2 separate regions of the Homo sapiens genome follow, and region 2 is linked to region 1. A link means that fine-mapping ties the variant in region 1 to the expression of a gene that starts in the linked region. Tissue or cell type: whole blood. Region 1 holds a variant in brackets; the other region holds the start of a gene. All regions are shown on one strand. Distances are between the middles of the regions.

The links. PIP is the estimated chance that this variant, and not a neighbour inherited with it, causes the effect.
Region 2: SCARA5 starts here. The variant in region 1 is fine-mapped to the expression of SCARA5 in whole blood (TOPMed, PIP above 0.99). The same link has a PIP of 0.9 or more in blood mononuclear cells.

Annotation. Positions count from the first base shown.
Region 1 is chr8:27,888,889-27,891,574 of GRCh38, forward strand. The region is part of intron 7 of SCARA5 (scavenger receptor class A member 5); the gene reads right to left. Among named protein-coding and RNA genes, the nearest start is that of MIR4287, 4.1 kb to the left of the region's middle. The variant G/A (reference allele first, on the strand shown) is at 1,319.
Region 2 is chr8:27,991,208-27,993,893 of GRCh38, forward strand. SCARA5 (scavenger receptor class A member 5) reads right to left here and starts at 1,466. Exons shown (of 9, transcript NM_173833.6): 1 at 1,050-1,466.

The sequences.
Region 1 (2,686 bases):
GCTGGGTAGCCTCCTTGCTGTCTCCCAGATCAAGGGGCTCATTGTTTCACCCCACAACTTTTCTGGAGTGTCAATTCCAGCCTCGGCTTGGAGCTCTCTGCCTCACTGCAGCCCCAGACCACAGCACCTGCCTCCCCATTCCTCAACCTGTTGTACTGAGCCTGCCCTTCACCCAGGCCCCACCGGGACCAACCCCATGGTCCTCAGCCACCCTCCTTCTACAGGCCCCAAATCTCTCAAAGCTTGAGCTTGTTCCCCAGTAAAGAGGGTACAGCTGAGGCACAGATGAGGCCAGGTCATGGAGAAGATCAAGGCATGGGTCTGGACAAGGAATCTTAGCATTTTCTCAGGATATCACTAGGAACAACTTCCATTAGCTTAGTTGTCGGCAACAGATGTCCCATTACTTAGTGCTTGGAGTGATTTTTCGGTAATTATGACATCATCTTTGGGCTTTTCCAATAATCACAAATGATGGTGAAGCATAGCATTTGCCAGCTGGTAGAGACTTGAAGATGACACAGTCCACACTCTTTGCATGACACGTGTGGGAGCAGAGGCCCAGAGAGGTGACGTGCCTTACCCAAGTCATCCCGTAGCTAGCAGAAGAGCTGGGGCCTGAACTTGAGACTTAGCCCTCGGGCCAGTTCTCCATCTACACCCTCCTTTCTTTCCCAGAATCCTTTCTTCAGAAGATCCCTGAGCATGGTCCACCAATTTGCATCACGACTTTGATGCAAGATGCCTTTTGATGGAGCAGTTACATGAAAAACAATTACTTTAACCCTGGAACTGCAATGCTTCTAACTAAAATTCATAGAAACAGCTTGGTTTCTCCTGAGTCTTATGGGAGAACCAAGAAGACAGGGTTGCCTTTGTGAAGCACAGCCATTGCTGAGTTTGCATTTGAAAATGAACATGTCAACGATTGCACGCAGGGGAAGGATAAACCAGCCTTGGCTTTTGAGGAAAGTGATAATATTTGTTGAAGTCCGGGGTGATTCTACTTCCCGTGCACAGATATGCAGCACTAAAAATGCATTATCTGTATTAATTCTTTATGTATATTTTATCAATGTCTGTGTTTATTTTTTCAATTGCATATTTATTTATCCATCAATTTGCAGGTATGGAATTACTACCACATTCCAGGATTGTGCTAGGCACTAAGGATGCAAGGATAAATAAGTATTGTCTTTGCCCTGGACTCACTCAAATGAACTAAGAGTTTAAAATAGATAAGAAAGACCACAGAATGTCAAAGCTGGCAGAGAACTCAGGGGCTCCAAAACCCTCAGTTAGAAATGAGGAAACTGAA[G/A]TTGACAGAGAAGTCACCAGCCATTACTGGGATGCCAGATCCTTCTCTTTTGAGACCACTTCTCTTTCTGATGCTGGCTACTTTCAGTAACAAACCATAATACAGAGAGAAGACAGTTTGAGGTTAAACCAGCAGGGCCCAGGGTGGGGCAGGCTGGCACTCCTAGAACCAGGTGGCACTGCTCTCCATCTGTGAAGGTTACAAGCACATATACTATTTTCCCTTGGAAATAGAGACCATGTCTTGTTTGTCCATGGCCCCTTAACACTTAACATGACACGTGGCTGGCTGAGGGCCCTAAATGCTGAATAGATGGCGTGGAGGGCAATGGGTAGATGTGTGCGTGACTTTATGAGCAAGCATGATTGGAATCCCCTTCTGAATGCCTCCGGATCCCTGGTTCCAGTCTCAACCTCCAGTGCCTGCATATTCAGAATGGGTGCTGTTCTCACCCACAGATCCCACCTGCTCAGGGTGGGAGGGGTGGGAAAGGTGCTGCCCCAGCACGGAGGCCACAGCTCGCTGTGCACACAGTGACTTGGGGCCTGACCCTGGATTTCATCGATTTGTGCTGCCCTTCTGAAGGTCATTCTATATCCCCGCCTTGCTAATTGATGTCTAAACATGTATCGATCTAGCCTTGGGGACACAGAGGTATTTCACCCTGTCTCTTCTTTGGATGCAAAATGCTGCGAGGCAGTTCCAGGTTGTCCCGGCAGGTGTGGGTCTGAAGCAAGCAGCGTGGTGGGTGAGGGGAGCCCAGGGCAGAGACTGGATGGGCAGGGCCAGTCCAGGCAAGCTACAAGTGCTCTCGCAAGTCTGAGAGGCATTTCAGACTTCCTCATTTCTTCACTGTCCCATGGGCCTCTCAGGGTTGTTGAGGGGATCAGTGACAAAGACTCTGTAGCCAGGTGCTCTCCTGAACCTCAACCTTCCCTCTATAAAGACACAAGACATGTCTGTATAGATGTGAACAGAACTACAATAGGTTTGTTTTTTTTTTGTTTTTTTTTTTAAATGGAGGAGTCTCGCTCTGTCATCCAGGCTGGAGTGCAGTGGCACAATCTCGGCTCACTGCAACCTTCACCTCCAGAGTTCAAGTGATTCTCCTGCCTCAGCCTCCTGAGTAGCTGGGACTATGGGTGTGCACCACCATGCCCGGCTACTTTTTGTATTTTTAGTAGAGACAGGGTCTCACCATGTTGGCCAGGATGGTCTCGATCTCTTGACCTCGTGATCTGCCCGCTTCGGCCTCCCAAAGTGCTGGGATTACAGGCGTGAGACACTGCGCCCAGCCTACTAATATAGTTTCTAATAGCTCAAGATTCCGCTCCTAGGATGATCTGGACCCCCTTAAAGTGCCTGCCT
Region 2 (2,686 bases), 100 kb after region 1:
TGGGTAGCTGCTGGTCACCCAGGATCACTGTGAGCCTCCCGTGAGATAATGCATGTGGCATGACTTTATGAACAAGGTCACTCAGGGGAGCTGGTGGCAGTCTGATGAGAAAAAGCATCCCCCAGCATCTTCTGACTCTGCCTGGCAGCCAGGTAAGGGGGTGTCCAGGTTCCCAAGGCCTCCCTCCTACCTAGCCAGTCTCAGAAACAAAGCTGTTTGAAGTTCCCTTTGTAAAAGGCAATCGCGAATGCACTCTAGGGCTGATATCAGGACCCTGGCTCTTCAATCCTTCTCTGGAGATCAGAAGGACTCCATTAATTCCTCCTCTGAGTGGGTAGCACGAGCCTCATTTGCTGCTACCAAGTCAGTTTCTCTGGGTACCCGCATCTAACTCTGCAGGGTTTATGGCTTTTCTTTGGATTACCTCACTTTAAACTCATCAAAACCAAGGAAAAAAATCACATGAGTGTGGCCCTTCTCCAAAGAGAGAATCACTAAGGAGGTTTTAAATGTTTTCCTCCTCTAACTGTACTTAGTTAAGCTAAATCATAACCCAAAGCTGGACAGAGACAGATATTTTAGAAATAACCTCTCCCCACATATATCCCACCACTGGCACATGCACACGCACAGACATGCACACACACACACATGCACACACACACACATGCACACACACACATGCACACACACACATGCACACACACGAAGCCATGGAGAGGAGCTGTCACCTGAGCCATCTGCACCCTGAGTAGGCTCTTGAGCTGTGACATGAGTCAGGTGGAGTAGCCACCAAGGCAATAGCTTCCCTCTGGCACCCCAAATGCAGGCTCACATTCTCTCCAGCCCAGGCAGTTGGATGAGGGCCCGGCAGATATCTGCGGGCCCAGCAGGCGGGGACCTTCCCACCTGGAGAAGGCACCTCCAGGCTCTAGGTCTGAAGTTTCCCAAACTCTGTACTCCTCTCCATCCAGTTCACTCCAGTCTCCTCCAGCTGTCTTTGAGACAGCATGCCCAGGAGATAGGACAAAATTAGTACCAAGACTCACCTGAGTGCCCCTGGCTGAGGCTGTAGAGCCTTGTCCCCTCAGATCTCAGCATTTGCCATGGTGGCCAGAGAGCTGGCTGCCACCACGCTGAGAGCCAGGCCGCCCCTCGGACCGCGTCCCCACAGCCAGCCAAATCCAGATGGAGTCATAGAAAGGGGCTGCAGGGGCGCCCAGGGACGAGTCTCAGAGCAGGACCACAGGGGCCACTTCTGCAGGAGGACCAGGTCAAGATGCAACCTGTGGCAGAGTGGGGGTCTGGGCCTGGGGGACCCAGAATGGGGGGTGTGCGCCTGGGACTCCCTGTCCTTGGTGCCTGGTCCTGGGTAGCGATCAGGAGATGTTCTGAGGAGGCACCGGCAGCTCCTCTAGGTACTGCCTGAGATGCGAACTGCAGCTGCTCTCGCCGCCAGTCCGTATAAAATAAAGTTCTTGGAGCAGTTGCGGAGGCTTCTGCAATGGGGTCTGGAATACGGCCCCCCTCCTGCGGCCAATCGTGGCATTACAGCCCCGTGTGGGAACGCCCGCTGGGCCCAGAGCAGCGCGGTCGGCCTTGGCCTTGGGACTCCAACACCCCAGTCTAAAGGTCCTGCTCAAAATACTTTTTGGAAGACTTCTGGGGGAGTGGCAGCTAGACCTGGCTTATGAGCCACGCAAGAAAACCAGTCTTGTAAATTTATTTATAGCACAGAATTGGCATGGCTCAATTCATTCACCAAGCTTGGCACAGAGTTACTTCATGTATTTTCCTGGAGTCACATTCATCCTCAGTGGACACGGATTGGCCACACTGGGGGTAGTCAGGAAAATGCCCCAGGGGGTTCCACGGAACTCAGCAGCAGAATCAGCGTTTCTGGCTCATTAACGCTGCACAGGGGCTGGGGGGTGCAGGATGAAGACTAGCTGGCTGTCCATAGCAATTCAGTATGGGAGGGGGACCCAGGCACGAATAATCCTAAACCTGAGCATGATTGCTTACGTTTGAAAAAGGACATCTAGGCCGGGTGCAGTGACTCACACCTGTGGTCCCAGCACTTTGGGAGGCTGAGGTGGGAGGATTGCTTGAGCCCACCCACAAGTTCAAGACCAGCCTGGGCAACATAGTGAGACCCCATCTCTAAAAAAAAAAAAAATCTCTTTAAAGGCAATCTAACCATATGTGAAGGGAGCTGCTAAATTCAGATTGAGGTGGTAGTATCAGGGGCATCAGAGAAATCACCATAATTGTCCAAGCCAGGGTGGCAGAGTTAGGCTATGCAGATGGCTTCCAGAGGACAGCACCCAGAGGTAACATTCATGAATGCATTCCTGTTTGTTGGTGAAAAGTTCAGCCTCAAGACTCCAGGGTCAGGCTTCGTACATGAAAAGTGTTTGCCAAGACTCAGCTGTGTCACTGCAGCTGCCCGCCCACAGCTGAGTCAGAAACGCCGTCCTCATTCTCAGTGACTGCCCTGCCTGACTGCCTAGGAAGCAGCTCCAACATCAAACTCCATTTTACAGAAAGAACAAATGATAATTGTATCATTATGGTAATAATCCCAGGGAGCGGAGGAGGAGAAGGAAAAGAAGACAACACTTTATAGCATATACCATGTGTTTCTTATATATTAGCTCATTGAACCTATTCAACAACCCCCTGA